Homo sapiens: one gene and its partners. The protein of the gene in region 1 interacts with the protein of each later gene in a pairwise test. Each region holds a gene or a part of one and is shown on either strand. Other genes may lie near its edges.

Region 1 (3,649 bases):
ACGGTGGAATGTGGATGGGTGAGGCTCTGACCCAGGCCCCAGCGCAGATGCACCGTGAAGACATCACACTCAGGGAGAGAGGCCAGACACAAAAGGACGCACAGCATGTGATCCCATTTCTTTTTTTTCTTTTTTGAGATGGAGTCTCGCTCTGTCGCCCAGGCTGGAGTGCAGTGGCGTGATCTCGGCTCACTGCAACCTCTGACTCCCTGGTTCAAGCAATTCTCCTGCCTCAGCCTTCTGAGTAGCTGGGACTACAGAAGCCTACCACCACGCCCGGCTAATTTTTGTATTTCTAGTAGAGACAGGTTTCACTGTGTTGGCCAGGATGGTCTTGGTCTCCTGATCTTGCGATCCGCCTGCGTCGGCCTCCCAAAGTGCTGGGATTATAAGCATGAGCCACCGCGCCCGGGCTTATATTTTTAAAGCGTAAGCTTTGTGGCATGTAAATTATATCTCAATAAAACTGTTTAGGGAAACACACGCTGATACCCATCTTCCCCCCACGCCCTCCTGAATTGGGATCTCGGGGGCGGGAGTGGGTTTCTGTCTTCAGGGCTCTCAGTTCTAGGATAGCAGCTGGGGTTTTTACCGTCCTACCAGCTGGGACCCATGCCTCAGATAGAAGCCCCATTGCCTATGAAATGAGAAGGTATCACATGAGTATTCCAAAATACAGGCCTCCACTTGGGCTCTTTCCAAAAGCAATAGCGAAAGGGACAGTTTCCGTCCCCGGGCCGGTGAGCTGTATTAACTGTTCTGCTCCCGGGGTCGCCATCCAGGCAGTGACAGCCACCGTCGCCAGGCACAGGCCAGGCCAGGCCCTGCCGCCCCCACCTCCATCCCCCTTAGTGGATGTAGATATGATTGTTTGCGACTAGCGAACCCCCTATAGATGCAGATGCCTCCTGAGCCGGCATCTGTGTTGAGTCCTGGCTGCCCAGAAGAGCCAAGTGTGACGCCCCCTCGGGTCTGTGTGGACACCAGGCCGGTGTTTTCCTCTCTCCCTGACACCCCCTCCGGTCTGTGTGGACACCGGGCCGGTGTTTTCCTCTCTCCCTGTAGGAAACGAGCAGATGAAAGTGGAAAACTTTGAAGCTGCCGTGCATTTCTACGGAAAAGCCATCGAGCTCAACCCAGCCAACGCCGTCTATTTCTGCAACAGGTACCAGCTCAGGGCCTGCCCAGGGCAGGGGCGGCCGGGTGCGGGGGCGTCCTCCGGGATGCTTAGCAGGGACCTGAGATGGGAGAGGCCTCTGCGCTGTAGATGAGGGATCCATTCACCGGTGGTCTCAGACCAGGAGCGAGCATCAGGTGACCAGCAACGGGGTCGGGGAGAGTCGATGCTGATTTAAAATCAGGTAGCACGCCCAGCACTCTGGGAGGCCATGGGGGAAAGATCACTTGAGGCTAGGAGTTCGGGACTAGCCTGGGCAACATATCAAGACCCCCGTCTCTACAGAAAATGTAAAAATTAGTCTGGGGGCCAGGCGCGGTGGCTCACGTCTGTAATTCCAGCACTTTGGGAGGCTGAGGCGGGGGGGATCACTTGAGGTTGAGAGTTCAAGACCAGCCTGGCTAACATGGTGAAACCCCGTCTTTACTAAAAATACAAAATTAGCCGGGTGTAGTGGTGGGCACCACCAGTTACTCAAGAGGCTGAGGTATGAGGATGGTTTGAACCTGGGAGGCAGAGGTTGCAGTGAGCCAAGATTGCGCCACTGCCCTCCATCTTGGGTGACAGGGAGACTCTGTCTCAAAAAAACCCCGAAAAAAACCACAAAAATTAGCTGGATGTGGTGGTGGGTGCCTGTAGTCCCAGCTACCTGGGAGGCTGAGGCAGGAAAATCACTTGAACCCGGGAGGCAGAGGTTGCAGTGAGCTGAGATCGTGTCACTGCACTCCAGCCTGGGCAGCAGAGCAAAACCCTGTTTCAAAAATAATAAATACATAAATACATACATAGAAAATCAGGTATCATGGCATTCCACGTGGATGTCAAGCCAAGAAAATAATCCAGTATGTGGAGGGTTGTGTTTTTTGAATGTGTGGTCTTGGATCTGCTTCAGGCTTACAGGACAGTTGCAGAGGCAGTGCAGGGTTCCTGGCCGCCTGTCATGGGGTAGTTTAGTCTCCACTCACTCTTCTCTGTACTTTGAAAAAATTGTAAAGAGAAACACTAAACACGAAAATGGTGAAGACGATTCAGACGCTGTAAGCCAAGAGCTTTGAGCTTTGACATTGGTCTGAGTTCTTTTTTTACTGATATGTAAATAATTTGTGAATGAAACTTGGGTATAAGTTCCCTACCCTCATTGCTCTTGTACAGCCATGGATCGGAACATTTTTTGCAAATAAAATTCAGAGTCGCAGTCCTGAGTGGCTGCTGGTGCTTTGAGCCCACATTTGTCTAAGAGCATCTCAGTGGCCACACCTCTCAGCTTTCCCCATCAGCCCCATTTTACAGATGGGGAAAACTGAGGCCGTTCCTCCAGGAAGTTGGAGAGGAACGCAGCTCTCAGGCTCCCCTCAAGGGCTGCCCGCTGGGCTCAGAGCCGCCAGTGAGGGACCTGCCCTGCCTTTTCTTCCCCAGAGCCGCAGCCTACAGCAAACTCGGCAACTACGCAGGCGCGGTGCAGGACTGTGAGCGGGCCATCTGCATTGACCCGGCCTACAGCAAGGCCTACGGCAGGATGGGGTGAGTGCCTGTCCACGGCCGCGCCTTTCCAGTCTCTCGGGACCCCTCCTCTCCTGCTCCTGCTTCCTCTCTTGTGTGGCTTTTTTCCCACCCACAACGAATTCTCCCACCCCGGTTCAGTTCAACTCTGACACTAGCTGTTCGGAGCCAACGTAGTCCCTACAGGTCACAGGCTCAGCCCCACAGACGCCCCGCATCAGGTGCCACCCGGAGATCCCTGGGCCCCTTGCTTCTCCCTGACTGGCTGTCACCTGGGGTTCCCATGGCTCCTACTCAGGCTCCATTGTTTGCTGGGGCGGCTCACAGAGCTCAGGGAAGCACCTGGTTTATGATGAAGGACACAGGACAGGTCCGAGAGTGAGGCCAGGAGGGTCCCCGGGGCAGGAGCCTGCGCCCCGTGCAGCCGGTGCCGCCCTCCCAGCATAAGCGTGCATTCGCCTGCTTCTCTGAATGCCCTTGCTCAGAGTTTGTGGGATTGGGTCTCCCCAGAGGCTGGGGAGGGGCCCTGTTCAACTGCCCAGTCTCCCCAGGACCCGCCTCCTCCTGGGCTCTGTAGGGGCCCTGAGTCACCTCACGAGTGAAGACTCACTCAGGTGGGGGTCAGGGGCTGCTTGTGGATGACGGGAGACATGTCTGTCGCTCAGAGGTTCCGAGGGTCCTTGGTGCCCTGTGCCGGGAAGCGGGGCCAAGACAACATCCACGCATTTCCTGTGACCCTGAGCTGGCCCGCTCCCTCCTCTCAGCCCGCTCTGGGCTTTGAGGCCCTGTGTGTGGCCCCATGGGGACTCCAGTTCTTGTGTGGCAGGGGTGTTCTCATGTCTGTCTCCCTCAGTCCTGCCCCTGGGCCCCTCGAAAGCCAGGTTTGTCTCCACTGAGCTGACAGCGGGCAGGGGGTGGCACCATCCGAGGTGGTTTGGGGGTTGCCAGGACCGCCGGGGACGAGGGCTTTGG
Region 2 (3,649 bases), on another chromosome or scaffold:
ATCCCTTGCACCATCTGGGGAGCCATCTTGAAAGTAACATGGGGAAGCTGATCCTTTCCCAGGGCAGCAGCATGAGGGAGCCTAGGGAAAGGATTTGGGAGGAAGGGGGAAAATGTTATTGAAATTTGTTAGGAGAGCAGCCATATGCAACTTGGAATTTGATCAGTCTTGATTTGACACCCTCCTCCTGCAGCTAGTGCCTGGGTGTCTTGAATGGTCCCAGATGGCTGAGGTCTCAGTTTAGCATCTTGCCATAGAGAACAGTGTGTGAGCTTACTGCACTCCTCACTTTGTGCTTGTGGGATGCCAGCTGGGTCATGAGGGCAGCCTGAGCTGGATGATCTGAGGACCTGTGCACACATCTGCAGTGGGGCCCACAGGGCAGAGGAGCGGGAACTTTGCATGATGACCCCTGTCTGTAGCTTATTGCTTTGAGGCCTTTGCCTGAGTTCTCACTGATGTGATCAGTTACGGGCACCAAAGTGAAAGTTAAGCACTGAGAACAGGACAAGGAGGCTGGAATCAAGCAACAAGATTTGGAATCCTATAATTCCAAAGTGAGCTCAGAGGGTCATCTGCATTGCTGCTGTTCCTGAGCAGCTCATTAGAAACATATTCTGGGACCTGCTACAGAGATTCTGATTCACAGCGTGCAACTTTAAACTCTTGTTACATGTTCATCAGGGCTTGAGAACATGATGTGCAGGTTGGTCTGAACCCAAAGGTATAGTCAAAAGTGTCTACAGGGCAGTGTCAGAGATGGGGCCACACAGCATGCTTAGGGACCCCAGAGGCCTCAGTTCAGGTTGCCTCCTCTGCCCAGGCACTTTTCCTCTCTCATTGTGGGCACAGGTACCTTCTCTGCATGTCCCAGGGATTAGAGCATTTGTTGCCAAGGCCCTCTGAGGTCAGGGCAGGGTTGGAATGTATCAAGAACAAGATGAATCAGAGGCAGGTCAGCTGAGTGGAGTAATGATGGAACAGGGGTTCTGCAAAACATCCCTGAACGATCTTGTCATGCCCTTTCTAGAACTTTGATAATGGTGATTCTCGCCTGGACTCCAGTGAATTCCTGAAGTTTGTGGAACAGAATGAAACTGCCATCAATATTACAACGTATCCAGACCAGGAGAACAACAAGTTGCTTAGGTGAGAGGAACCGAGAGGTCAGAGAATGATCCACAAGGGAAGACTAACTGAGAGAGGGGACTTAAACCCTTTCCCACCTGCAAAAGAGCCACCAGTGAGAGAATGTCACGTAAAAAGCAAAATGGGAATTCTGTCCTGTTCTATTCTATGAAAGTATGAATTAATATATTGAGTACCACTGATATCTAATCAAATAGTTATTGTTTTTGGTCAGAACTTGCAAGGACTAGAAGAATATAATTTTAAAATAAATTGCCAAGGGCACGTCAGAGCAAGTTATTTCTGAATGTTGTGGGTGATGTTTTACTGATTAATTTTCTGAAGGAATTACAGTAATGTATTATTTAACTATAGGTCTAAAATAGCTTTGTTCTGATTTTTAGATAATTAGTGCTATTTCATGTCAATTGCCCTAACTGTTACAGATATATGCCCGTCTACTTTTATGGCATTATTCCAGAATCAATATTAATAAAAACTAATCGCTAAGAAACTTTTGATGTGGTTTCAGCACATCGGTAAGAATTAAAAATAGGAAAAGCATGTCTTTTTTTCAAAAGAAGTGCATTGCACAGTTTCTAGAAGGATTCTTCTTTAATAATAGTCTATGACCTTAAAGTATAGGTTCTGTAAATCCTTCATATTTTGATAATCTGAAATTATATGTTTTATAATTTCAACGTTTGAGCCTCATGATATCCCAGTGAAGGAGGGCTTCTTGTCCTCCTTTTACGGATGGGAAGACAGGCTCAGAAAAGTTGAATAACTAACTCAAGTCCATTTGAGTAGTAAGTGATTGAGCCAGGGCTCAAATACAGCCCAAGAAAGAAGTGATGGAGCTGAGTTTTTTTTTGTTTGTTTTGTTTTTTGTTTTTTTTTGTTTTTGTTTTTGTTTTGTTTTGTTTTTGTTTTTTTTTTTTTTTTTTTTTTTTGAGACGGAGTCTCGCTCTGTCGCCCAGGCTGGAGTGCAGTGGCGGGATCTCGGCTCACTGCAAGCTGATGGAGCTGAGTTCTAAAAGCTTTTCTGAAAATCTCTTTCTAGAAGGATGATAATGGTGATTCTTGCTTGAACTTCATATTCTTTCAAATCCTATATTCCTTTCATGTCATCTGTCATATCTCTTCTGTTTTGATTTTCCTAGTTTGGTTGACTTGACGTGTATATACCATGGGGAAAAGCAATTGCTAGTGGAAGGTATGCAGGCAGTGAAAACATTAGACAAAACCATTCACGAAACTTTAGTCATCTTAAGGGGGGGAACATTTGGACAGCCTGGGTGATCTGACATTCATATAACAAACTAAAGGTTAGATGCCTGCATTGGTCAGGATGGATAATAGTTGTGTTGGGTCAGTGTAGAGAGAGGCTGTTTTAGTTAGCAGTCATCTTCTTGGCCTCCTGTGGAGGCCCTGGGTGTATGTGGTCCTGATGCTTACTTCCTTTCTTCTGAGCGAAGCTGAGGTCTTGCTAACACATTTCTCCTGTGTTTTGTTTCAGGGGACTCTGTGTTGATGCTCTCATTGAACTGTCTGATGAAAATGCTGATTGGAAACTCAGCTTCCAAGAGTTTCTCAAGTGCCTCAACCCATCTTTCAACCCTCCTGAGAAGAGTATGCCTAACCTAAGAAATAGAGAGCTGTAGTGAATGGAGGCATTTTGTAGGAGCCAAGATAGAGAGGATTGGTGGAACTCTCCAGAGCTAGCTGAGAAAATCCCCTTCCATGATTCTAAACTGGGCCCCAGCCCATTCTCCCCATGGTGAAGTTAGGGCCCCACATTCTTTAGGTTGATGGTAGTGTTTGCTCAGATATAGTGCTTCTGAGGGACAGGCAGGTCTTGTCTGGGAAAAAAGGGTAAGGTGCACAGACTGTAGCAAAGATGCCCTGTTCCACCCTCACAGCTAAACTGTTGCCCCGTATTTCTGGCCCAACAGAGTGTGCCCTGGAGGATGAAACGTATGCAGATGGAGCTGAGACCGAGGTGGACTGTAACCGCTGTGTCTGTGCCTGTGGAAATTGGGTCTGTACAGCCATGACCTGTGACGGTGAGCTGTGCTTCAAGCAGAAAGAAAAAACAGCAAGGAGAGAGCTTCATGAAATCAGCATGAGAGAAGTTGGGGTGGGGATGATGGAGAAGAGGGCGGTGGCTGGGAGCAAGGAACCCAGGCAGACCCACACCTGTAAGGTTGGAGCCCCAAGTGGGGAGCTTTGAGGGCAGAACATTTATCCCATAGGCATTCAGTTTGAAAATCACTCCAGAGGCTTGGAATAAGAGAGGACCAAGACCCTGGGCAAAAGTAAATGATAATGGAATAGTAACATTATGGAAATAGTAACAGTGAAAGTAGTAATAATGGAATAATAATTAAAAATAGTAATTATTTAATAATTAAAACATTAAAATAAAAACAATAATTATTATTTAATAATAATCAAAAATAATAATGGAATAGTAACAGTGAAAGCAAATACTCAGCAAAAACCATGTGCCAGGCTCTCT
Region 3 (3,749 bases), on another chromosome or scaffold:
CTTTTTCTCTGTGGAGTTAGCAGCACAAGGGCAATCCCGTTTCTTTTAACAGGAAGAAAACATTCCTAAGAGTAAAGCCAAACAGATTCAAGCCTAGGTCTTGCTGACTATATGATTGGTTTTTTGAAAAATCATTTCAGCGATGTTTACTATCTGATTCAGAAAATGAGACTAGTACCCTTTGGTCAGCTGTAAACAAACACCCATTTGTAAATGTCTCAAGTTCAGGCTTAACTGCAGAACCAATCAAATAAGAATAGAATCTTTAGAGCAAACTGTGTTTCTCCACTCTGGAGGTGAGTCTGCCAGGGCAGTTTGGAAATATTTACTTCACAAGTATTGACACTGTTGTTGGTATTAACAACATAAAGTTGCTCAAAGGCAATCATTATTTCAAGTGGCTTAAAGTTACTTCTGACAGTTTTGGTATATTTATTGGCTATTGCCATTTGCTTTTTGTTTTTTCTCTTTGGGTTTATTAATGTAAAGCAGGGATTATTAACCTACAGTCCAGAAAGCCTGTGAATTTGAATGAGGAAAAAATTACATTTTTGTTTTTACCACCTTCTAACTAAATTTAACATTTTATTCCATTGCGAATAGAGCCATAAACTCAAAGTGGTAATAACAGTACCTGTGATTTTGTCATTACCAATAGAAATCACAGACATTTTATACTATATTACAGTTGTTGCAGATACGTTGTAAGTGAAATATTTATACTCAAAACTACTTTGAAATTAGACCTCCTGCTGGATCTTGTTTTTAACATATTAATAAAACATGTTTAAAATTTTGATATTTTGATAATCATATTTCATTATCATTTGTTTCCTTTGTAATCTATATTTTATATATTTGAAAACATCTTTCTGAGAAGAGTTCCCCAGATTTCACCAATGAGGTTCTTGGCATGCACACACACAGAGTAAGAACTGATTTAGAGGCTAACATTGACATTGGTGCCTGAGATGCAAGACTGAAATTAGAAAGTTCTCCCAAAGATACACAGTTGTTTTAAAGCTAGGGGTGAGGGGGGAAATCTGCCGCTTCTATAGGAATGCTCTCCCTGGAGCCTGGTAGGGTGCTGTCCTTGTGTTCTGGCTGGCTGTTATTTTTCTCTGTCCCTGCTACGTCTTAAAGGACTTGTTTGGATCTCCAGTTCCTAGCATAGTGCCTGGCACAGTGCAGGTTCTCAATGAGTTTGCAGAGTGAATGGAAATATAAACTAGAAATATATCCTTGTTGAAATCAGCACACCAGTAGTCCTGGTGTAAGTGTGTGTACGTGTGTGTGTGTGTGTGTGTGTGTGTAAAACCAGGTGGAGATATAGGAACTATTATTGGGGTATGGGTGCATAAATTGGGATGTTCTTTTTAAAAAGAAACTCCAAACAGACTTCTGGAAGGTTATTTTCTAAGAATCTTGCTGGCAGCGTGAAGGCAACCCCCCTGTGCACAGCCCCACCCAGCCTCACGTGGCCACCTCTGTCTTCCCCCATGAAGGGCTGGCTCCCCAGTATATATAAACCTCTCTGGAGCTCGGGCATGAGCCAGCAAGGCCACCCATCCAGGCACCTCTCAGCACAGCAGAGCTTTCCAGAGGAAGCCTCACCAAGCCTCTGCAATGAGGTTCTTCTGTGCACGTTGCTGCAGCTTTGGGCCTGAGATGCCAGCTGTCCAGCTGCTGCTTCTGGCCTGCCTGGTGTGGGATGTGGGGGCCAGGACAGCTCAGCTCAGGAAGGCCAATGACCAGAGTGGCCGATGCCAGTATACCTTCAGTGTGGCCAGTCCCAATGAATCCAGCTGCCCAGAGCAGAGCCAGGCCATGTCAGTCATCCATAACTTACAGAGAGACAGCAGCACCCAACGCTTAGACCTGGAGGCCACCAAAGCTCGACTCAGCTCCCTGGAGAGCCTCCTCCACCAATTGACCTTGGACCAGGCTGCCAGGCCCCAGGAGACCCAGGAGGGGCTGCAGAGGGAGCTGGGCACCCTGAGGCGGGAGCGGGACCAGCTGGAAACCCAAACCAGAGAGTTGGAGACTGCCTACAGCAACCTCCTCCGAGACAAGTCAGTTCTGGAGGAAGAGAAGAAGCGACTAAGGCAAGAAAATGAGAATCTGGCCAGGAGGTTGGAAAGCAGCAGCCAGGAGGTAGCAAGGCTGAGAAGGGGCCAGTGTCCCCAGACCCGAGACACTGCTCGGGCTGTGCCACCAGGCTCCAGAGAAGGTAAGAATGCAGAGTGGGGGGACTCTGAGTTCAGCAGGTGATATGGCTCGTAGTGACCTGCTACAGGCGCTCCAGGCCTCCCTGCCTGCCCTTTCTCCTAGAGACTGCACAGCTAGCACAAGACAGATGAATTAAGGAAAGCACAGCGATCACCTTCAAGTATTACTAGTAATTTAGCTCCTGAGAGCTTCATTTAGATTAGTGGTTCAGAGTTCTTGTGCCCCTCCATGTCAGTTTTCACAGTCCATAGCAAAAGGAGAAATAAAAGGACCGGGTGAGATGTGTCTGCATATGAGCAGTAGAAAGTTGTCAATTGTCCCTTTTGAAAAACTATCCTTTTTTGAACCTTTGCTCAGATTGTTATTTGTACCTTTTGATGTTAAAATGACCTTTATTTATGAAATTACAATAGATTTGGGAAATGATAATAAGTGGTAAGTTTTTGTTTATTTTTAAATGTTCTTCCCTGGCAAAATAAAGAGATGGCACCTCTCTGTCAGTTTTCTTAATATGTTGTTCTGAAAGTTTTCTTACTCAGTCCAATCTGAGAACCTCTGCTTTTAAGTCATCAGACAAATTCTTGAGATGGCTTTTTCTGAGAGGCTCTTCTGTTCATCCTGGTCCCTTCTTGCCTAAAGGTGAGTCTGTGTGTGTGTGGGGGGGGTGCGGGGGTGAGGTGTTGGGGGAGGTCTTCTTATTAGCTGGGAAGATGGTATTTGTGTCACTTTTTGTGAAAGTGGGCTCCCAAATATTCCCTGTTGAGGAAGTGTTCTAATCATGAGGAAATAAGCAAGCAAATCCAGTTGTTGGACAATTAGTTTGGACTGGTCAAAGATGTCAGTGCCAAGGAAGAAAGAAAAAAGGGGTGGGGAAGGGCTTGTTCTATATTAAAGAGACTAAAGAAATGTGTTAACCAAATGTAGTGCATGAGTCTTGATTGGTGTCTTCATCCAAGGGGGAAAAAGGCTATGAGGAACAGGTTTGGGATAACTGAGGCAATTTGACTGCTCATTATTATGTTACTGTATTAATGTTCAGTTTCTTGGTGAGATAATGATACTGTGGTTGCGAAGGATAAAATCTTTGTTCTATGGAGATACATGCTTAAGTACCCAGGGTGAGGCGTCAGGATGTCTGCAATTTGCTCTCAAATGGTTGAAGAAAGACTGCAAATATATAGATAATGAGAGAAAGAAAGGTAAAACAACTGTGGCAAAATATTAATAACTGGTGAATTACAAACTGGTGAATCTAAGTATATGGGGAGCTTATTGTACTATTCTTTCAGTTTTTCTATAGGCTTGAAAAGCTTTAAAATTATGAGAAAATATTTCCTAAAAAGAGCCTTCTACGTGAAAGGCAAGCTCTTCATAGCTATGGGGTTAGAAAACCTAAGAGCCAGAGCCTGGGGATGACCTTGGGCAAGTTATTGAACCCTCTGCATCTTCATTTCTTGTCCATAACATAACAAAGAAAATTCCTGCTGTGAATAATTTTTGTGGGGTTCACATGAAATACC

The links.
Region 2: the proteins of SGTA (region 1) and FSTL1 interact in binary tests that used the Homo sapiens proteins (3 or more experiments, as listed by UniProt).
Region 3: the proteins of SGTA (region 1) and MYOC interact in binary tests that used the Homo sapiens proteins (3 or more experiments, as listed by UniProt).

The regions. Positions count from the first base shown.
Region 1 is NC_000019.10:2,762,702-2,766,350, reverse strand, and holds part of SGTA (small glutamine-rich tetratricopeptide repeat-containing protein alpha), read left to right. Parts: intron 1-1,065; coding exon 1,066-1,165; intron 1,166-2,593; coding exon 2,594-2,698; intron 2,699-3,649. UniProt on the Homo sapiens protein: Co-chaperone that binds misfolded and hydrophobic patches-containing client proteins in the cytosol. Mediates their targeting to the endoplasmic reticulum but also regulates their sorting to the proteasome when targeting fails.
Region 2 is NC_000003.12:120,402,353-120,406,001, reverse strand, and holds part of FSTL1 (follistatin-related protein 1 precursor), read left to right. Parts: intron 1-1,030; coding exon 1,031-1,149; intron 1,150-2,647; coding exon 2,648-2,760; intron 2,761-3,083; coding exon 3,084-3,194; intron 3,195-3,649.
Region 3 is NC_000001.11:171,650,489-171,654,237, reverse strand, and holds the start of MYOC (myocilin precursor), read left to right. Parts: upstream 1-1,549; 5' UTR 1,550-1,626; coding exon 1,627-2,230; intron 2,231-3,749. UniProt on the Homo sapiens protein: Secreted glycoprotein regulating the activation of different signaling pathways in adjacent cells to control different processes including cell adhesion, cell-matrix adhesion, cytoskeleton organization and cell migration.